3 linked regions of the Homo sapiens genome follow. The protein of the gene in region 1 interacts with the protein of each later gene in a biochemical or structural test. Each region holds a gene or a part of one and is shown in the gene's direction. Other genes may lie near its edges.

Region 1 (7,421 bases):
TTTCTTAGTTGTCAATAAAAAAGAAAAGAAAATATTCTAATTACTCCTTTTCTTTTTCTTTTTTTTTTTTTTGACAGAGTCTTGCTCTGTCACCCAGGCTGGAGTGCAGTGGTGCAATCTCGGCTCACTGCAACCTCCACCTTCTGGATCCAAAACAGTCTCCTGCCTCAGCCTCCCCAGTAGCTGGGACTATAGGGGCGCACCACCACACCTGGCTGATTTTTGCGTTTTTTTGTTTGTTTTTGTTTTTTAGTAAAGATGGGGCCTCACCATGTTGGCCAGGCTGGTCTCAAACTCCTGACCTCAAGTGATCCACCCACCTCGGCCTCCCAAAGTGCTGGGATTACAGGCATGAGCCACCGCGCCTGGCCTCTAATTACTCTTGGGATAATTTTAAATAAGTGGCCATTAAGTAGTAAGACACTTCTGTTGGCCCATTGGAACCCGTGAAGGAAGCTCTGGAGCTGTTTAAGGGAAGAGTGCTCATGCCACAGGCCCTAATGCCAGCTGAGCAGAAATGCCAGGCGAGTAGCTGGAATAGTCTCTACAGGAGATTTTAAATCTCTGTCAAAACCTGTAGTGGACAGGCTTCATCCAGAGAAACAGAAGCAGGTGGAGATACACATTAGAGACTCATGGCAAGGAATGGCTTATGCAGAGGTGGGCTGGCCAGGTTTGTGGGACGTCTGTAGGACAGGCCAGCCAGAAGGCAGCTGATCTCCCCGGCCGACTGAAGCTGCCTTCCACAGCAACATCTCCCACATGCCAGCAACAACCACGAGTGCATGTTCCAAAGCTATTAGTAATGTCTCACACTCAATAGCCATTAAAGCGTAAAAATGTCATTCCGAATGTTCTTTTGTTCTGGACTCTGTGAATAGCACTGCGTTGGTCTGAGTCACCATTGTGAAAAATAGGTGGATATCTAAAAGATGAGGAGAAACAGACCTATGTGAGGCCAGGATCTAGAATACAGAAACAGTTCTAAAATGTGGTAATTTGAAACAAGCCACTCAAGAGTAAAATATGAGACTAATGAGAAAACCCAGATGGACTGATAAAATAAGAAAAGGACTTTAACCCTCTGGGAATCAGGGAATTCAAAACTAAGATGGCAAAAAGATTTTTTTTTACCTTTACGGTACTGGAAAAAAATTTAAATTGTGACTATACCAAATATTAGAGAAGGTGTAGAAAACTTAGACCTCACATGAGTTCGACTAGAATGTAAATAGGAACAAAGATGTTAGAGAATAATCTAGAAAAAGTGAAGGTGGGTGTATCCTAAGATCTAACAATTCCACTTCTAGGTATCTCCTCTAGGGAAAACCTGGTCTGTGTGCATAAGACACACACAGTGGATATTCACTGAAGCAATGTAGTAAAACCCTGTTTTGAGATCATGTAGATTCACATGCAATTCCCTTCACCAGTTTCTCCCAACAATAACATCTTACAAAACCATAGTACAATGCCACAACTAGAAAATGAGCATTGATACAACCCATTAACTTTGTTCAGATTTCAGATTCCACCAGTTTACATGTACTCATTTTATAGACTGCTCTGTGTGTGTGTGTGTGTGTGTGTGTGTGTGGTATGCACGTGCGCTTAGTTCTCTGTAATTTTATCACCCATGTAGAACCATGTGACCACCAACACATCAGAGGACAGGAGAGTTTCATCACAGGATCCTTGATGCTACTCTTTATAGCCAAGCTGACTTCCTCCTTCCCCCTCCCTGAGGCTGGCAACCACAGTATGGTTCCTATTTTCTATAATTTTGTCGCTTTAAGAATGCTCTATAAATGGAATCATACACTATGCAACCTTTCGAGACTGGCTTTTTCCGCTAAACGCAATTCCCTTGAGACCCATCCGGGTTGGCAAGCATGTCCATAGGTGTTTCTTTTTAATTACTTAGTGGTGTTCCGTCATCTGGATGAACCAAGGTGTGTTCAACCGTTCACCCAGGAAGGGCACTTGGATTATTTCCAGGTTTTGGTTATTGCAAATAGAGCTGCTGTGAACATTCTTGTACAGGTTTTTGTGTGAACATAGTTTTCATTTCTCTGGGATAAATGCCCAGGAGTGCAATTGCTGAGTCATATGGTTAGCACATGTCTAATTTTATGAGAAACTGCTAACTCTTTTCCAGAATGGCTACACCATTTTGCATTCCCACCGGCGGTGTGTGAGTGATTCAGGACCTTCCCAGCCTGGGCAGCATTTGGTATTGCCACTATTTTTTTTTTTTATTATTTTAGCTCTTCTAATAAGTGTGTAGTGATATCTCCTGATGGTTTAATTTGCATTGTCCTGATGGCTAATGACATCAAGACCTTTTTATGTACTTATGGCCATCTGTGTATCCTCCTCAGTGAAAAGTCTGTTCATGTCTTTTGCCTACTTTTTAATTGGATTGTTTGGTTTTAACAACTGAGTTTTCCTAATTCTTTATATTTTCTAGATGCTGGCCTTACCACTCGGTGATTATTTTCTACCACTTTATCTTGTTTTTTCACCCTCTTCACAGAGTCCTTTGCAGAAAGTTTTACATTTTGTTGAATTCAAGTTTATTAATTTTACCTTTTTTGGATTTTGATTTTTGGTGTGAAGTCTAAGTCTTCACCTAGCCTGAGGTTCCCGAAGATTTTCTCCTTTTTTCCCTACAAATTTTATAGTTTCACATTTTATACTTAAGCCTATTTTCCATTTTGAGTTAATTTTTGTATGAGGTGTGAGGTTTAGGTTGAGGCTTATTTGTTTTGGTTTGGTTTGGGTTTTGCCAACGAATGTCCAATAGCTCCGGGACTATTAGTTGAAAAGGTGATCCTTCTTCCATTAAATTGCTTTTGCACCTTTGCTAAAAACCGTTTCCACTTATTGCTGTGGGTCTATTTCTGGGTTCTCTATTCTGTTCCATTAGTCTATATGTCAGTCTCTCTGCCAAGAGCACACTGTCTTGATTACTGTAGTTGCATAGTCAACTTTAATCAGGTGGAGTGACTTCCTTCCACTTTATTATTCTTTATAAAACTTATGTTAGCTATTGTAGGTTCTGGGCCTTTCCATATGAATTTTAGAATAGCGCGTTTATGGGTGCAAAAACCTTGCTGGGATTTTGATAGGAATTTCTTCAAATGTATAGATTAGGGAGAATTAATAGTTCTACTGTGTTGAGTTTTCCAATCCATGATCACAGGTTGTCTCTCTATGGGTAATTAGGTCTTCTTTAACTTCTTTCATCAATGTTTTATAAATTTCAGTGCACAGATTCTGAATCTGAAATTTCTTTACAGTGTACATAAGTGTTTTATTTTCTTTGGGGCATTTCTAAATGGCATTGTGTCTTAACTTCAGTTTCCACGTTTATTGTGGAGTAGGTAGAACTGTGAGTAATTTTTATGTGTCAGTCCACATTCTGCAACCTACTGAGCTGCCTTATTAGATCTAGGAGGATTTTTTTTGGTAGATTTCTTGGGATTGTCTATGTAGATCATCATGTTATCTGCAAATTGGATAGTTTTATTTCTTCTTTCCAATTTATATACTTTTTATTTCTTTTTCTTATCTTACCGTACTGGTTAGAATGTCCAGTGCTATATTCAATAAGAGTTGCAAGAACTTGCCTTATTCTGACCTAAAGGGCAAAGCACTGAGTTTTTACCACCAATTATGATGTAGCTATAGGATTTTTATGGATGTTCTTTATCAAGTCAATAGTCCATGTCTATTCATGAATGTGTGTTGTATTTTGTCAAATGTCTTTTCTGGGACAATTTATATGTTCATGAGATTTTTCTTCTTTGACTTCATGGTATGATGGATAGTTGATTGACTGACTCTCTAATGCTGACCCACCCTTGAGTATCTGATATATATTCCACTTAGCCATGTATATAACTTTTTTATGTGTTGCTAGATTCACTTTACTAATATTTTGTTGAGGACTTTTGCCTCTAAGTGTTTGTGAGATATTGATCTATAGTTCTCATTTTTTGTATAGTCTTTGCTAGTTTCAGTATCAGGATAACTGGCCTCATAAAATGAGTTAGAAAGTGTTCCCACTTGTTCTAACTTTTGGAAGAGATTGTATAAAATTGCCATAAATTTCTCCTTAACTGTTTTAGTAGAAATTTCCGGTGAAACCATGTGGGCCTGGGGATTTCTTTCTTGGGTATTTCCTTCCTTCTACTTTGTTTGTATATATTTAGCTCTTTTTTTTTTGGTTTCTTGAATTAGATCTTAGATTATTGATTTGAGACTTTTCCTGCTTTCTAATATAAGTATTTCAGGGTATGAATTCCCTCTCAGCACTACTGAACTAGGTGTACATATTTTATCGAGTAAAAGTTTTGATACAAAAAAAAAGGAGGGAAACACACTAATTCCCCATGAGTAGGGCTATAGATTTACGCTATGATTTACTTACAACAGTTAAACTACCCAGACTTTGTGTATCAACATGGACAAAATTCTAAATAACAGTGTTGAATGGAAACCAGCAAACTGCAAATGAATATATATAGTATTATTCTATTTCTTTAAAATTTTCAAATCCACAAAAGAACATGTGGTCATGATTACGTGGGATTATATGACATATAGAAGCCAGGTAATGTTATCTTCTAATCTCGGGGAGGGGAGGGAATTGGCTGTCTCTGCATGGTTTTATTTCTTAAAAATATTTTGAGATTTTATACAAATAACAGAATGTGTTACTTTTTTTGATGAAAAGGATAAGCCAGTTGTCTTGTAGATTATTATCTGTGCTTTTTAATATGTTCGAACTAATTAGTAATTTATATTAGCAATAAATAAACCAATGTAAAGTTTGGGGGGAAATGACACCAGCGATAATGAAGTGTTAGAGAGGAAGATTAGAAGGCCCCACAAAGGAATCTGAAAGCAGGTGTGGAGGTGAAATTACTGAAATTTGGTAAGAGCATGACAATGACAAGGAAGGCGAAGGAGAGGAAGAAGAAAGGGCAGGAGAGACAGTCTCCCTCCTCTTCGTTGTCATTTGTTCAAGTAATATAAGTGCAGAAAGGAAGGATAAAGAAATTGATCTAAAAAGAGAAGCGTGCAGAAACGGGCAGGAGCCGGGACCTCAGAGGAGTGGGCTGGATTCAGCACAGGCCTGGGGATTAACTAGGTGTTTGCAACCTCACTCTTGAGCCCATGACTTGAGGAAGAACCATGAGAATCTAGCTAAATCTGAAAAGATTTAAGGAACAAAATTTGTATGGGGATCCAGCCCTTTTTCCTTCTTGGCTGCCAGGATTTATAATGAGCTGGGCCTCTAAGAGCAGTCTAGCATGATTCAGACAGAGGCCAGCAAACCAGGGCCCCACTTCCTGTCACTCTGCAGGCGACCTGGCTCAGAAACTCTGGAGGTAAAGTGTGGCTGCCCGCTCAACAGCCTCAGGAAGTCCCCAAAGCCCTATCTCCTATCTCCTGTGGGTGGGCTCTCCCCCACTGGCCCCGAGGGAGACTTTGCTCCTTTCCTCTCCCATCCCCTCCGAACTCACCTGAGACAGGCACCCAGGCCAGTGCGGCCCCAGCTGCCCCGCGTCCAACCCCCACTTCCGGGGGTGCAGCTGGGGAAGGAGGTGCAGGCAGCGACCACAGCAGCTACTGAGCCCCAAGAAAGGAGGCCAGCACGGGGTGGGGGGTGGGAGGCGTGGTGGCCAGAAGAGTTATTCTAGCGATTTATGTTTACATCAATTCACTTCCTTTAAGAGTAAAGGGATTAATATTCAGCTCCCCAATTTTCCAAAGGTCAAGAAAGAAAATGAAGTTTTATTCATAGTAAGTGATTAACCAAATTACCTGTTTAATTTTACATTAGAGACCACATATACAATGTATAAAAAGGCAAGTAATAAAGAGGAGATAGAACATGGAAACAAAGGACCCAGAGGCAGAGATGAGGGGGAGGCAGGAGGCTGGAGAAAGGGAGGTTTCTCAGCAGTTCAGGGGACTGCTGGTGTTGCGGCCCGTCTTTTGGGGCATCTGGTGACACGGGATGCTCCCAGAGAGCCCTGCTCCTTCCAGGTAGGAAGGTGTGCCCATGCTGCCCTGCAGGCAAGAGCAAAATGCCCTGTGCTGGGAAGGGATGGAGCTCAGGGCAGCTCCACCCGCAGACTCCGTGCAGGTGCCCTAGGCTGCTTCCCGGCTGACCACCAACCCAGAGAGACAGAGAAATGCTCTACTCAGATCTGCTTTTCACCTGGAGCCTGATTAAGAAACCTAAAGCTCCAGAGGTCAATACACACGGAAAACAAAACAAAGCTACCTGGATCAGTTTAGAGTCCTAGCAGGGACAGAATTGCCTTGGTGGCTGGACGCCCAACTCCCAAGCCAAGCATCTGCCGTGGCCCCCTGACCTGCTCACCAGGAGAGGGGACAAGCTGGCTCCTGTGGTCTGCAGCCACCTGCACACATTACACTGAGAATTCAAATTAAATGCAGAGTCCTAGGCCCACCCTGGCATACCACCCCACAGTCTTGGGGTCGGGCCCAGGAATATGTATTTTAATGAGCTCCGGGTTAACTTAGGATTGCTGCTGTAAGTGAAGGAAGGAAACAGACCGTGAGTGCCTCGGTGTTTCCAGGTCGACACAGCTCATCTGAATAGACCCACACAAGCTCTCAAATGTGTGCTTTCATGTGATCAGGAAGTCCTTTCTGTTTCACTGATAAATTGAATTTGCATTAGAATAACTAATTGATACTAAAGCTTTTTGTTGACAGTTTATTTTTATTTGCATCATGTATTTTTGATGCTTTTTCCATATTTAGAGAATAACATTTTATGTCCTGCGTGAGTCTTCATCTGATGAGGAACGTTTATGGATACTCATTTTCTTCATCTTTCTTGTATGGTTGAAAGCTACCATGTTTGCTAAACTTGCTATCAAAGCAAAAAATTATAGAACTATGTTGTAGGCTCCTCACATACAGCAAACGTACCATTACTTTTTAAAAATTCCTTGGTGTCTACTGTGTACAAAAATACTATGCCGTCCATTTCAGGGTATGTTAAGAGAAAATAGATGTCATTCTTGCCCTTGAAGTGCTTATAGTTTTATTAGGAAGCTTAGAAGTTCCCAAGTAATTTTCCCATGGCAAAATATTTGCTCAATACCCTGCCATGTATACAAAATGCTGCTGGCTTTCTAAAGAAGGGGGTTGTGCTCGGTAGAGGAGTAGAGTAGACTGGATGATGACGACTAGAACTGGCAGAATTATGTTGAATGGAAAATATACTAGCCGGGCGCGGTGGCTCATGCCTGTAATCCCAGCACTTTGGGAGGCCGAGGCGGGAGGATCAACTGAGGTCAGGAGTTCAACACCAGCCTGACCAACATGGTGAAACCCTGTCTCTACTGAAAATACAAAAATTAGCCAGGCGT
Region 2 (7,421 bases), on another chromosome or scaffold:
CCCCATTGTCGCTGGGACACACTGCCCTCCAGTGCTCGAGTGCATTTCCTGGGCACTTTCTGGCCTTTTATCTTTGATGGAGAAATCCGAGGCCTGCCAGCATCCCCACCAGTAGATTTCTTTGGACGAAGTAAAATCCTTCTGTGGATTCAGCTTTACCGCCTTTCCTCATCTGCTGGTGTCTTCCTCAGAGCTTTAATGTCCGTCCTGCTCTCCGAGTCAGGAATCTGATTTTCCAGCGTGCCCTGTAATGACGGTGCTGTCACCGCTGTGATGTCCGCTGTGAGGTGGGGACAGGACCTGGAAGTGGGGTTTCCAAGTGAGGGTTCTGGGCCCGCCCGAGTCATCTGATGTTGGGTCTGACAAGCCAGGAGCTGTGTGAGCCGGAGAACGTCCCCTAACCTGTCTGTGCCTCGGCTTCCCCATCTGTAAAATGGCGAGAGCTGAACTTACTTCCTGGTGATGGGGTCAAGTGCGTTAACACAGAGGGACTTGGAGACTGACGCTTACTGAGGGCCACACCAGCGGTCAGCAAAGGTTGTCTTAAAGGGTCAGGCAGTAAATATTTCCACCTTTGTGGGCCATGCGGCCTCTGTGGCAACTATGCGTTCTAAAACAGAAGCAGCCTTAGACACTGCGTGAAGGGACGCGTGTGGCCGTGTTCCACCAGAACTTTCTGTACACACATGGTGGTGGCCCGCCCGGACCCATCTGGTTAATTCTTGACTCTCAGGGCAGCGTCTCCTGTGCCTCCAGGAGAGGGCTGTGGTTCCTCCCTCTGAGCCGGGCACCTTGCATTCCTGGAAGGGGTGGGGGGAGTGGCGAGGAGGGGGCGGCACCAAGGACAGGGCCCACCTCCTAGGAGGTTTTGTGAGCTTCCCTCAGCCCCCGGCCGCCCCCTAGGAGGTTTCGTGAGCTTCCAGCATCCCCCTGCGGCCACTGTCCCTCCATTTCCCATGTCTGTTGGATGGTGCCGGTTCCAGGGCAGGGTCAGGGACTGGATCCGGCTGCGGTCTGCGTCTCGCCTGGTTCCTGAGAGCTGCACTTTGTCTTTGGTTGTTGATGAATCCATTTTTGCTGGCGTTCTTCACGTTTGTGTATTTGATTAAGTATCATGGACAGGCATGTGCAGTGGCTCACACCTGTAATCCCAGCCCTTTGGGAGGCTGAGGCCGGAGGATCACTTGAGGCCAGGGGTTCAAGACCAGCCTGGGAAATATCTCGAGACCCTTTCTCTACAAAAAATTTAAAAATTAGCTGGCGGTGGTGGTGCAAGCATGTGGTCCCAGCTCCTCGGGAGGCTGAAGCCGGAGGATTGCCTGAGCCTGGGAGGTCGAGGCTGCAGTGAGCCATGATCACACCACTGCACTCCAGCCTGAGTGACAGAGTGAGATCTTGTCTCAGAAAAACAGCCCCGAGGGCACGTGTCTCATGACTCCCGCCTCCCGCCTCCCATCTGGGCTCTGCTTGCTCCTCTCCCCTTGCAAACATGAGAGGAGCGTTAATGCCAGGACAGGGAGCAGGGAGGGGCATCCCCAGCGCCTCCAGGCCACAACATGGCGAGTGTGGCTACCAGGACACGGAGGGGCAGCCTCAGCCCCCTCCCCCAGGCCACGACATGGCGAGTGTGGCTACCAGGACACGGAGGGGCAGCCTCAGCCCCCCCCAGGCCACGACATGGCGAGTGTGGCTACCAGGACATGGAGGGGCACCTTCAGCCCCCCACCCCCACCCCCAGGCTGTGCTTCCCAGCATCCCTTGGGGTCAGGACTGTGTGTGTCACTGAGGGGCTACGGGTGAAGCCACACACGCCCCTGGCCTGGCCTTGCGCCCCTGCCTGAGAGCCTCTATGCAGGACAGCGCCTGTGGGGCACCCAAGTGGGCCGAGCCCATGTGGATTACAGGTGCACACCACCAGCGTGAGGAGAGGAGTGGGCTCGGAGCATGCTCAGCCATGGTCCCAGGCATCTTGTCAGCAGCCAGCTCAGCTTGTGTCACGCAGAGTCGCCTTAGAGTGAATTGACACCAGATTGTCCTGGTGGGTTTTTGCTCTGAAGAAATGTCAAAAGTAGCATTAAGGTTTTTCTGTAGACAAAAAAACCCCACCATCATTGCAGCTTGAGCAGTTGCAAATTAAATAAATTCCTTCCTCAGCAAGCTGCCTGGGTCCTAGGCCTTGGGCAGAGAGAACTGGCTTTCAGCACAGTTCCCGTGATTGGCTTTTCTCTGGAGAAGAAGGGGAAGCGGCCTCCGCCTCTACCTCTCTAAGTGTTTAAATGTCCCCCAAATTCTCTCAGCCTCCTGAGGCATTGTATTGATGCTTTTCTCTAGAATTCATGTATTTCTTTATTTTCTCTGGAAATGGCATTGGCTTTGTCCCCGTCCTATGGGCCGTGATAGCTTAAAGTTAGGATGAACCCACAGAGGCCGTGGAGGCCCTTCCCAGGCGCCGCAGCAGCACTGTTGGGGTGAACGTGGCTCCTCTCGGGGGGACAGGTGGAAGGGACCAGCACCCATTGGGGCGTGTAACTCCTGGTGGCAAAAAATGTGCGGTGAAGTCACCCTAAGGGTTTTTGTGGTTTTTTGTATTTTTATTTTATTCTTTGAGACAGAGTCTTGCTCTGTCGCCCAGGCTGGAGTGCAGTGGCGCAATCTCAGCTCACTGCAGCCTGTGCCTCCTGGGTTCAGGCGATTCTCCTGCCCTCAGCCTCCCGAGTAGCTGAGATTACAGGTGCACACCACCAGCCCTGGGTCATTTTTGTATCTTTAGTAGAGATGAGGTTTCACCATGTTGGCCAGGATGGTCTCGAACTCCTGACCTCAGGTGATCTGCTTGCCTTGGCCTCCCAGAATGCTGGGATTACAGGCCTCGTGAGCCACCACGCCCAGGCACTCTAAGGGTTTTGAATAAATTCTTTCTTAACGTTTTCTGACCGACTCTTAGGTCGTGGGTGTCCTCCAGGGGTTGGAGGCCTTCATGGAGCTTCGTTCCGTGGGGTTGACGTTACTGAACGAGTCCCTCCACGGGTGCACTGAGGACGTTCCTGCACATCGAGGGCACCCTCAGAGCTGCTCTTTCTGTCATTGCTATTTTGTTTATACCGGGGATTGGCAAACTTTTTCTTGAAGGGCCCAAGAGTAGACATTTTTGGCTTTGCGGCCACAGGGTCTCTGTTAGCAACTCCCTCTGCCACGGTGGCTGGAAAGCAGACATAGAAAATAGATGCACCAGTGAGCATAGCCTCGTTCCAATAAAACTTTATTTACAAAACAGGGAGCAGTGGACCAGCGAGTCCCCAAGGACAAGGGCCAGGTTACCAGAGAATTTCCAGGCACATCCGTTGGAGGCAGGGGAGACAACAAAAGCCGAGGAACGAGCCTTCCCCAGCCGCTCCCCAAAGGCACGGCTTATTCTTCAGGGTGCCCGACTGGCCACGTGGACGTCTCTCCAGCTCCTCACTTGGGGCCCAGGGCTCTTTCGATTTTTAGGAGTTTGTTTCCAATCAGAAACTTCACAGATGATTTGCAGCCAGTTCACCTGCCCTGTGTAAACTGGCCTCTGTCCTCTCTGGCTTAATTCTGGGAGCTTGTGGAGGGCAGGAGCAGGGACAGGTGCCTTGAGGCGTAACAGTGGCGGTGGTGTGGGAGCTTGCGTGGGATCGAAGGAAACGGGCAGAGTCACCACACGCTTCCCTCCTTCACTCCCCGCTCCACGAGGGGCAGCCAGGAGCAGCCACCAGTCGGAAGCAAATAAACAATTCAGGTGCCAGAGGAGCCGCTGACCTAAAAAAACCCGCCACAGGGTATTTCTGGGAGATTGTATGAGAATTTAATTTTGAAAATTGAGTCTCATGAAATGTAGGAAAAGATCTTATTAGGAAGAGAAACCATGTGGCCCAGTCCCTGAGACGGGAAGGGCCTGCGTGGTCCTGATGACATCTGCGGATCTTTTAAAATCATACGATCATGTCTGCGAAACCGGGATGCCACTTCCCACCTGGCTTCTCCCTGACCCCAGCTTGTTCCCTTGGAGGGCCGGTGGACTCCTCAGCCTTGCAGCAATGAAATCAGGCCTTGAGGCCACCCCACCCGTGACCTGCGGTGCTGTCCCCATGCAAGAAACTGCCTCGCTCCAGCCCCCAGCAGATCCTGTCCCAGCCCCCAGCCCTGGTCCAAGCCACCTCCACTCCCACCTGGTGACGGGCCACCTCCTTCATTCCGGGGCCCACCCACACTTCCCAAGTCCACACACAGTGGCCAAGAGTGAAGGCCGGCGAGGCCCCCGCATGACTCCCTCACCTGCACCCTTCACGAGCGGCCCCGCAGCCCGTCCCCACCAGCCCCTCTCTGCTGCCAGGGTGCTCCTGCTGCTCTTTGCTCTTTGCAAGACTGAACCTGCGGGAGGGTTCGGGCCCACGAAGGCCGCTTCTGTGGGGCTTCTGTCTAAGGAGGCCGCCGTCTGCCGAGGTGACTGCAGCCTCCGGCGCCTCTCTCCCTGCAGGTTGTTCCTGGTCATTGAGTACGTCAACGGCGGGGACCTGATGTTCCACATGCAGAGGCAGAGGAAGCTCCCTGAGGAGCACGCCAGGTGGGTGCGCGTGGACGGGGCCGGGTGGGTGCGCCCGGAGTTGGGGATGGGTGGGTGCGTGCGGTGTTGGGGGGCTGGGTGGGTGCGCACAGAGGGATGACGGGTGGGTGCGCGCGGAGTTGGGGGGCCGGGTGGGTGTGCGCAGAGGGGAGGTGGCTGGGTGGGGTGTGCACGGAGGGGGTATGACGGGGGCGGGGGGGGCGGGGTGCACGTGGAGGGGGCCGGGGACCTTCTCCAGGGGTCAGCAGGGAGCTCAAGGGAGGGAAGTCCAGGTAGGATGGCAGAGGGCATCATGTCCCCCACAGTGTGACGTCCCCTGCATTGTGACACATTCCATATTTGCTCCAGAGTCACAACATTTGGGAGGTCTCCTGAGTTATGGTGCCTCAGACCAGTCCCCCAGGCCCCACCCCTGAAGCAGCACCATGCCTCATCCGAGAGAAGTGAGAGTCTCCTGGGATTGTGCTGTCTTCATGGTGGCTCTGCCCTGGTTCTGCTCTTCACCCTGTTAGTGGCACAGCATGGCCAGCATTTCCTCAGCGTTAGGAGCAGAACGAGAGTGGTCTGTTTCTAGAGTGACCTGAGAGACTCCTTCCTGCCCTTCCCTTTCATCTCTGATATCTTCGGGCCTCCCCTGGCAGCCGAGGGGCCTCCAGCATGGTTCAGGAGCCTCCCCCGGCAGCCGCGGGACCTCCAGGACCGTTTGGGGGCTTATTTCAGCTCCCTGGACCTTTCCTGTCTTTTGTAGTTTCTCCTTTTCCTCATTTCCTTACTTAAGAACGTTGCATGCAGTTTTGTGAGTCACCTTAGATTGTTTCTGGCAATAGGACAGTAGGCAATAAATCTAGAACAGTACACTTCCCACAACGCTGTTTTTAAAAACTGTGGCAACACACAACATAAAAGGTAGCATTTTGGGGCATGGAATTCAGTGGCGTTGAATGCACCCCATGCTTTGCAGCCACTGCTGGCCCCCGTCTCATCTCCAGAGCACGCCCCTCTTCCCTGCTGAAGCTTGGCCCATCAGACACTCCCTCCCTGTCCCCCGCCCCAGCCTCACATCCTCACCCCAGACGGGCACGTCCCACTTTCTGTCCCTCTGATTCGAGGACTCTAGGGACCTCATCGGAGTGGAATCACAGTGTTGGTCCTTCGGTGGCTCATTTTCCTGAGCATAGCGTCCTCAAGATTCATCCGTGCTGTGGCCTGTCTCAGAATTGCCTTCCTTTTTCAGGCTGGATAATGCCCCGTTGGATGGAGGGGCCACACTTTGCTTATCCGTCCATCCCTCGGGGGGCACTTGAGTGGCATCCACATGTTGGCCATGGTGAACAGTGCTGCTGTGAACATGGGTGTGAAGTAATCTCTTGAACACCCTGCTTCCGGTTCTTTGGGGTATACACCCAGAAACTGAATTGCTAACCACATAAGAATTCCATATTTAGGCCGGGCGTGGTGGCTCACGCCTGTAATCCCAGCACTTTGAGAGGCCAAGGCGGGCGGATCACGAGGTCAGGAGATCGAGACCATCCTGGCTAACACGGTGAAATAACACAGTGAAACCCTGTCTCTACTAAAAATACAAAAAATTATCCAGGTGTGGTGGCGGGCGCCTGTAGTCCTAGCTACTCGGGAGGCTGAGGCAGGAGAATGGCGTGAACCTGTGGGCAGAGCTTACAGTGAGCCAAGATCGCGCCATTGCACTCCAGCCTGGGTGACAGAGTGAAACTCTGTCTCAAAAAAAAAAAAAAAAAGGTCATATTTAATTTTTTTTTTTTTTTGATGGAGTCTCGCTCTGTCACCCAGGCTGGAATGCAGTGGTGGGATCTCAGCTCACTGCAGCCTCTGCCTCCCAGGTTCAAGTGATTCTCCTGCCTCAGCCCCCAGAGTAGCTGGGACTACAGGTGTGCGCCACCATACCCGGCTAATTTTTTTGTATTTTTAGTAGAGACGGAGTTTCGCCATGTTGCCCAGGCTGGTCTTGAATTCCTGACCTCAGGTGATCTGCCTGCCTCGACCTCCCGAAGTGCTGGGATTACAGGTGTGAGCCACCAAGCCTGGCACCGTGTTTAATTTTCGAGGACCTGCCGGACTGTCTTCCGCAGCAGCGGCGCTGTTCTGCACTCCTACCACAACGTGCCATGGCTCCGGTCTTTCCCGCATGGAAGCTGTCGTGTTATTTGCCCGCTCCTCCCCTTGTGGAGGCTGCCACATCGTTCTCTGTGTCTTTGACAGCAGGCCATCCTAAGGCGCATGGGGTGGTGTCCTGGAGCTTTCATTGGCATTTCCCTCCCTGGCCCTGTGCACTGCACTTTCAAATCCTGGGCCTGGTCATTGAGAGGATGCCGGGCCCGTGGTGGGGCAAACGGGAGTGTGTGGCCCCCAGGCTGGAGCTGTTGGCGCAGCCTCTGGCACAGGCACTGCCCCCATGACGGCATCCCCACCCCCAGGTTCTACGCGGCCGAGATCTGCATCGCCCTCAACTTCCTGCACGAGAGGGGGATCATCTACAGGGACCTGAAGCTGGACAACGTCCTCCTGGATGCGGACGGGCACATCAAGCTCACAGACTACGGCATGTGCAAGGTGCGTGCCTTGGACCGCCTCCCCTGACCATCCCGCATGTGCGTCTCGGGGCGCCTGTCCCGCGGGGTAGTGTCTACAAGAACCCTCTCCCAGTAACTTTGCCCCCACAGGAAGGCCTGGGCCCTGGTGACACAACGAGCACTTTCTGCGGAACCCCGAATTACATCGCCCCCGAAATCCTGCGGGGAGAGGAGTACGGTGAGTGCCGCTGCCCTGGCCCCTCTCGGAGCACACAGGGCCAGAGATG
Region 3 (7,421 bases), on another chromosome or scaffold:
AGCAGCGGCGTGGGGTAGTCATAACAGACCTGGATGGCCTGTGAGGCCTGCCCTTCTGTGAAGAGCACTCTCTTGCCGTTTACAGAACCTAGAATATTGAGCTGAGCAACTTCTGTTGCTTTTCTTCCTTCACAGTTCCTTTCACAGTCATTTTCCCTCAGCCAGGTGGTGGCTTGTGAGCATCTCATCTCTGTCGCTTCAGGTCAGGCGGCAGTGCTGCCTGCTTAGTCTGCATTAGACACTAACAGCAAACGCGGCAAGCAGGACCTAAACACAGCCTCAGAGGGGCCCATGTAGTAGGGGAGAAAGACACACACACACACAACTGTGCACATTTTTAGTATAAAAGAGCTTCTGGGGTTGACGTGATAATTTGTTTTTCATCATTTAATCAGCATTGAGCACTTCCTTTCGCCAGTTAGGAAAGGAACAAAGATGAATAAAACCCAGGTTTTGCTTTCCAGCAGCCTCATAGCAGGAAATGTAAACAACAAGGAGTATACAGAGTCCCAGAGATGGACACAGGCATGGTGGGTCCCAGAGAGTAAGGCAGACATTAAAGCCTCACAGAGTGTGGCCGACTCGCGGCAGTTGTGCTGCAGCTGAAACCTGACAGTTGGGTTCTTTGCTGGTTGGGGAGGGGCACAGCTGTGTGGACCCTGGAAGGCGGGCATGCCAGACAGCTGGGCAAGAGGGGGGCTGCAGAGAAAGAGGCCAGCCCAGGCTGTGGCCCTTGCTTCCCCAGGAGGCCAGCTCTCCCTCACAGGTAGCTGCCTGACCTGAAGCAGTGGCTCAGGTGACTCTGGTGGCAGTAAGGATGCAGGAGGACCTCTGAGAGCAGGGACTTGGGGGAAAACTGGTCAGGCCACTGAAGAGACAGGCAGCACCGCAGGCACAAGGATGGCAAGACAGAGGCAGGGTTGCTCCTGAGGCCACAGGGCGCAGTTGCTGGCAGAACGCCTCCTGAAGCCAGCTTTGCAAGGCGGGGGACCAGTATCCCTCTCAGGTCCACCACCACTCTGAGAGTCCCGGCGTGGCAAGGACAGTCACCTCTGTGCGTTGTTCATTTGCTCCAGACACAGAAGACACACAGATGCTCCCTATGTGCTTATAGCATGATTTTTTTTCCCAACATTCTTTTAGTGACAGTTTTCAACTATTCTGAAAAGTTGAAGGAATTTAAAGTAGACACCCATATTCCCACCACCTAGATTATACAGTTAACATTAACATCTTACTTGTTTTCTCATAGATCTGTCCATCTGTTCCTCTATCCACCCATCAACCCATCGCATTTTATCCATTCATTGCAAAGGACGTTGCCAACGTCTAGACTGACTTACAATTTAGTCATCTAGAATATCACATGAATCCAGGGGAAGCTGGGGCTGGGTTGGCTGATTAAACTATGGGATAGGTTCTTTCATAAACATTTCATTTTGGTGATCACAACAGAATTTTGGGAAGTCAGCATGCATCCATGTTTATAATTGAGGAAACTGAAGACAGGAGCCTTTGAGCACTTCGCTCAAAATTGTACATCAAGTGGCAAAACTAGGCAGAGAATCCAGGTATTTTGGACCCAGAATGTCATTTTCTTGAAATGTTTGCCAGCATGAAACAGTGGCAGGCTGCACACTGCCTGTGATTAGCCTTGCTCCTTGGGAAAGTTCTCAGGACTCATTCACAATACTAAGGAGCATTGTCTCTGAGTTCCCAGCCCACACACTGGAGATCAGGAGCTCTGAATTGGAGAGCTCAGGAGGTAAAGGTGTAATAAAACATGGGAACACTGGGAGGGCACGGTTGACCGTTTGGCTGCAGCAAGAAAGGCTTAGAAACATACACCCCAGGACCACAGAGCACAGCTGTGGGGCCCCTTTGGTAGAGGAAGCAATGAAGTGATATTTGTAGTGGTGGCCGAAAGGTCTTAAAAAAGGGTCAAATTATATTCATTGTATTTTGCTTAAGGGGGTCAGTTTTAGAAATGTTTCCATGGGCAAGTTTAAAAGCTGATCATGCCTACTACCTGTGACAAGCCTCATTCCTACCCAGCCCATGTCCTCAGTCTCCTACCCTGTGAGGCGGGTGAAGGTAGAGGTCAGTGCTCAACTTCCTTCTTCATCTGCCTGATTGTGAATTTTCTCAGGTGGATTGATCACTAGGGGCATGAACCGCATTTCCCTTTGGTTTATTGAAGATGAAAGCATTTTAGGGCAGCTTTAATTTCCTGCCAACCCGTAGGTTTGGCTGCAGTTCACCTCTACATAAAAGAGACCACTTCTCCCTCTTAGCCCATCTCCAAGTCCACAGTTTGGCTATAGTTAGCCCATTCTTCTTGCCCCACCTCCTGAGTGGCAGATGGAAACCACAGCTCTGAAAGTGCTCTGTGAAATAGTAAGTGATACTCTGCTAGATTTTCATGCACTAGTGTTGGATATCTTACGGTAAATAAAGGACATCTTAGGAACACTGCAGTCAGCGTAGGCTGGGGGAGTGGCGTCTTTCCTATGAGTGTTGTGGAAACCACCTCAGAACTGTCTGAGAGGAGGTGCCTGTGGAGTGAGGGCTGACCCTGGCCCCTTCAGAACTGCCATGTGTTATCCTTGCCCAAATGTGTCCAAAGAAATGGCCATTTTGCAGGAGTCTTTTTTCCCTTTTCTGTTTTCATAATGCTATTGCTGCTGCTGCTGTTTTAATGTGGTTCACTGTTGTCACTTTTGTGTTTTGTGATGCTGATGATGATGCTGTTTTCACATGGCTCACTCTTAACTCAGTGGTCTGTTTGTGTTTCTATAGGACAAGGGCTCAGAGGACTGGACGTGCTCAGACATCGGTGTTCTTCTTCCCAGTTCTTGACCCCTGGTCCTGTCTCCAGCCCGTCTTGGCTTATCCACTTTGACTCCTTTGAGCCGTTTGGAGGGGCGGTTTCTGGTAGTTGTGGCTTTTATGCTTTCAAAGAATTTCTTCAGTCCAGAGAATTCCTCCTGGCAGCCCTGTGTGTGTCACCCATTGGTGACCTGCGGCAGTATGTACTTCAGTGCACCTACTGCTTACTGTTGCTTTAGTCACTAATTGCTTTCTGGTTTGAAAGATGCAGTGGTTCCTCCCTCTCCTGAATCCTTTTCTACATGATGCCCTGCTGACCATGCAGCCGCACCAGAGAGAGATTCTTCCCCAATTGGCTCTAGTCACTGGCATCTCACTTTATGATAGGGAAGGCTACTACCTAGGGCACTTTAAGTCAGTGACAGCCCCTTATTTGCACTTCACCTTTTGACCATAACTGTTTCCCCAGAGCAGGAGCTTGTGGAAATACCTTGGCTGATGTTGCAGCCTGCAGCAAGTGCTTCCGTCTCCGGAATCCTTGGGGAGCACTTGTCCACGTCTTTTCTCATATCATGGTAGTCACTAACATATATAAGGTATGTGCTATTGGCCCAGCTTTTAGAAAATGCAGTCATTTTTCTAAATAAAAAGGAAGTACTGCACCCAGCAGTGTCACTCTGTAGTTACTGTGGTCACTTGTACCATATAGAGGTGTAACACTTGTCAAGAAGCGTTATGTGCAGTACTTAATGTTTGTAAGACTTACAAAAAAAGATTTAAAGTGGCAGCTTCACTCGACATTTGGTGAGAGAAGTACAAAGGTTGCAGTGCTGAGCTGTGGGCGGTTTCTGGGGATGTCCCAGGGTGGAACTCCACATGCTGGTGCATATACGCCCTTGAGCTACTTCAAATGTGGGTGTTTCAGTAACCACGTTCCATGCCTGAGGATTTAGCAGAGAGGAACACTGCGTCTTTAAATGAGAAAGTATACAATTCTTTTTCCTTCTACAGCATGTCAGCATCTCAAGTTCATTTTTCAACCTACAGTATAACAATTTGTAATAAAGCCTCCAGGAGCTCATGACGTGAAGCACTGTTCTGTCCTCAAGTACTCAAATATTTCTGATACTGCTGAGTCAGACTGTCAGAAAAAGCTAGCACTAACTCGTGTTTGGAGCTCTATCCATATTTTACTGATCTCTTTAAGTATTTGTTCCTGCCACTGTGTACTGTGGAGTTGACTCGGTGTTCTGTCCCAGTGCGGTGCCTCCTCTTGACTTCCCCACTGCTCTCTGTGGTGAGAAATTTGCCTTGTTCAATAATTACTGTACCCTCGCATGACTGTTACAGCTTTCTGTGCAGAGATGACTGTCCAAGTGCCACATGCCTACGATTGAAATGAAAACTCTATTGTTACCTCTGAGTTGTGTTCCACGGAAAATGCTATCCAGCAGATCATTTAGGAAAAATAATTCTATTTTTAGCTTTTCATTTCTCAGCTGTCCTTTTTTCTTGTTTGATTTTTGACAGCAATGGAGAATGGGTTATATAAAGACTGCCTGCTAATATGAACAGAAATGCATTTGTAATTCATGAAAATAAATGTACATCTTCTATCTTCACATTCATGTTAAGATTCAGTGTTGCTTTCCTCTGGATCAGCGTGTCTGAATGGACAGTCAGGTTCAGGTTGTGCTGAACACAGAAATGCTCACAGGCCTCACTTTGCCGCCCAGGCACTGGCCCAGCACTTGGATTTACATAAGATGAGTTAGAAAGGTACTTCTGTAGGGTCCTTTTTACCTCTGCTCGGCAGAGAATCGATGCTGTCATGTTCCTTTATTCACAATCTTAGGTCTCAAATATTCTGTCAAACCCTAACAAAGAAGCCCCGACATCTCAGGTTGGATTCCCTGGTTCTCTCTAAAGAGGGCCTGCCCTTGTGCCCCAGAGGTGCTGCTGGGCACAGCCAAGAGTTGGGAAGGGCCGCCCCACAGTACGCAGTCCTCACCACCCAGCCCAGGGTGCTCACGCTCACCACTCCTGTGGCTGAGGAAGGATAGCTGGCTCATCCTCGGAAAACAGACCCACATCTCTATTCTTGCCCTGAAATACGCGCTTTTCACTTGCGTGCTCAGAGCTGCCGTCTGAAGGTCCACACAGCATTGACGGGACACAGAAATGTGACTGTTACCGGATAACACTGATTAGTCAGTTTTCATTTATAAAAAAGCATTGACAGTTTTATTACTCTTGTTTCTTTTTAAATGGAAAGTTACTATTATAAGGTTAATTTGGAGTCCTCTTCTAAATAGAAAACCATATCCTTGGCTACTAACATCTGGAGACTGTGAGCTCCTTCCCATTCCCCTTCCTGGTACTGTGGAGTCAGATTGGCATGAAACCACTAACTTCATTCTAGAATCATTGTAGCCATAAGTTGTGTGCTTTTTATTAATCATGCCAAACATAATGTAACTGGGCAGAGAATGGTCCTAACCAAGGTACCTATGAAAAGCGCTAGCTATCATGTGTAGTAGATGCATCATTTTGGCTCTTCTTACATTTGTAAAAATGTACAGATTAGGTCATCTTAATTCATATTAGTGACACGGAACAGCACCTCCACTATTTGTATGTTCAAATAAGCTTTCAGACTAATAGCTTTTTTGGTGTCTAAAATGTAAGCAAAAAATTCCTGCTGAAACATTCCAGTCCTTTCATTTAGTATAAAAGAAATACTGAACAAGCCAGTGGGATGGAATTGAAAGAACTAATCATGAGGACTCTGTCCTGACACAGGTCCTCAAAGCTAGCAGAGATACGCAGACATTGTGGCATCTGGGTAGAAGAATACTGTATTGTGTGTGCAGTGCACAGTGTGTGGTGTGTGCACACTCATTCCTTCTGCTCTTGGGCACAGGCAGTGGGTGTAGAGGTAACCAGTAGCTTTGAGAAGCTACATGTAGCTCACCAGTGGTTTTCTCTAAGGAATCACAAAAGTAAACTACCCAACCACATGCCACGTAATATTTCAGCCATTCAGAGGAAACTGTTTTCTCTTTATTTGCTTATATGTTAATATGGTTTTTAAATTGGTAACTTTTATATAGTATGGTAACAGTATGTTAATACACACATACATACGCACACATGCTTTGGGTCCTTCCATAATACTTTTATATTTGTAAATCAATGTTTTGGAGCAATCCCAAGTTTAAGGGAAATATTTTTGTAAATGTAATGGTTTTGAAAATCTGAGCAATCCTTTTGCTTATACATTTTTAAAGCATTTGTGCTTTAAAATTGTTATGCTGGTGTTTGAAACATGATACTCCTGTGGTGCAGATGAGAAGCTATAACAGTGAATATGTGGTTTCTCTTACGTCATCCACCTTGACATGATGGGTCAGAAACAAATGGAAATCCAGAGCAAGTCCTCCAGGGTTGCACCAGGTTTACCTAAAGCTTGTTGCCTTTTCTTGTGCTGTTTATGCGTGTAGAGCACTCAAGAAAGTTCTGAAACTGCTTTGTATCTGCTTTGTACTGTTGGTGCCTTCTTGGTATTGTACCCCAAAATTCTGCATAGATTATTTAGTATAATGGTAAGTTAAAAAATGTTAAAGGAAGATTTTATTAAGAATCTGAATGTTTATTCATTATATTGTTACAATTTAACATTAACATTTATTTGTGGTATTTGTGATTTGGTTAATCTGTATAAAAATTGTAAGTAGAAAGGTTTATATTTCATCTTAATTCTTTTGATGTTGTAAACGTACTTTTTAAAAGATGGATTATTTGAATGTTTATGGCACCTGACTTGTAAAAAAAAAAAACTACAAAAAAATCCTTAGAATCATTAAATTGTGTCCCTGTATTACCAAAATAACACAGCACCGTGCATGTATAGTTTAATTGCAGTTTCATCTGTGAAAACGTGAAATTGTCTAGTCCTTCGTTATGTTCCCCAGATGTCTTCCAGATTTGCTCTGCATGTGGTAACTTGTGTTAGGGCTGTGAGCTGTTCCTCGAGTTGAATGGGGATGTCAGTGCTCCTAGGGTTCTCCAGGTGGTTCTTCAGACCTTCACCTGTGGGGGGGGGGGTAGGCGGTGCCCACGCCCATCTCCTCATCCTCCTGAACTTCTGCAACCCCACTGCTGGGCAGACATCCTGGGCAACCCCTTTTTTCAGAGCAAGAAGTCATAAAGATAGGATTTCTTGGACATTTGGTTCTTATCAATATTGGGCATTATGTAATGACTTATTTACAAAACAAAGATACTGGAAAATGTTTTGGATGTGGTGTTATGGAAAGAGCACAGGCCTTGGACCCATCCAGCTGGGTTCAGAACTACCCCCTGCTTATAACTGCGGCTGGCTGTGGGCCAGTCATTCTGCGTCTCTGCTTTCTTCCTCTGCTTCAGACTGTCAGCTGTAAAGTGGAAGCAATATTACTTGCCTTGTATATGGTAAAGATTATAAAAATACATTTCAACTGTTCAGCATAGTACTTCAAAGCAAGTACTCAGTAAATAGCAAGTCTTTTTAAATGCTGCTTTATTTCACTAAATTTTGTTGTGAGGTGTCA

Evidence for each region.
Region 2: of the proteins of MBP (region 1) and PRKCZ, one has a biochemical effect on the other in vitro, tested with the Homo sapiens proteins (2 studies listed by BioGRID).
Region 3: of the proteins of MBP (region 1) and MAPK1, one has a biochemical effect on the other in vitro, tested with the Homo sapiens proteins (16 studies listed by BioGRID and IntAct).

The regions. Positions count from the first base shown.
Region 1 is NC_000018.10:77,122,698-77,130,118, reverse strand, and holds part of MBP (Golli-MBP), read left to right. Parts: exon of another isoform or gene 1-1,759; intron 1,760-2,470; exon of another isoform or gene 2,471-7,421. UniProt on the Homo sapiens protein: The classic group of MBP isoforms (isoform 4-isoform 14) are with PLP the most abundant protein components of the myelin membrane in the CNS. They have a role in both its formation and stabilization.
Region 2 is NC_000001.11:2,165,017-2,172,437, forward strand, and holds part of PRKCZ (protein kinase C zeta type), read left to right. Parts: intron 1-3,274; coding exon of another isoform or gene 3,275-3,551; exon of another isoform or gene 3,552-4,434; intron 4,435-4,477; coding exon of another isoform or gene 4,478-4,501; coding exon 4,502-4,588; intron 4,589-7,038; coding exon 7,039-7,174; intron 7,175-7,284; coding exon 7,285-7,372; intron 7,373-7,421. UniProt on the Homo sapiens protein: Calcium- and diacylglycerol-independent serine/threonine-protein kinase that functions in phosphatidylinositol 3-kinase (PI3K) pathway and mitogen-activated protein (MAP) kinase cascade, and is involved in NF-kappa-B activation, mitogenic signaling, cell proliferation, cell polarity, inflammatory response and maintenance of long-term potentiation (LTP).
Region 3 is NC_000022.11:21,759,619-21,767,039, reverse strand, and holds the end of MAPK1 (mitogen-activated protein kinase 1), read left to right. Parts: intron 1-2,799; 3' UTR 2,800-7,383; downstream 7,384-7,421. UniProt on the Homo sapiens protein: Serine/threonine kinase which acts as an essential component of the MAP kinase signal transduction pathway. MAPK1/ERK2 and MAPK3/ERK1 are the 2 MAPKs which play an important role in the MAPK/ERK cascade.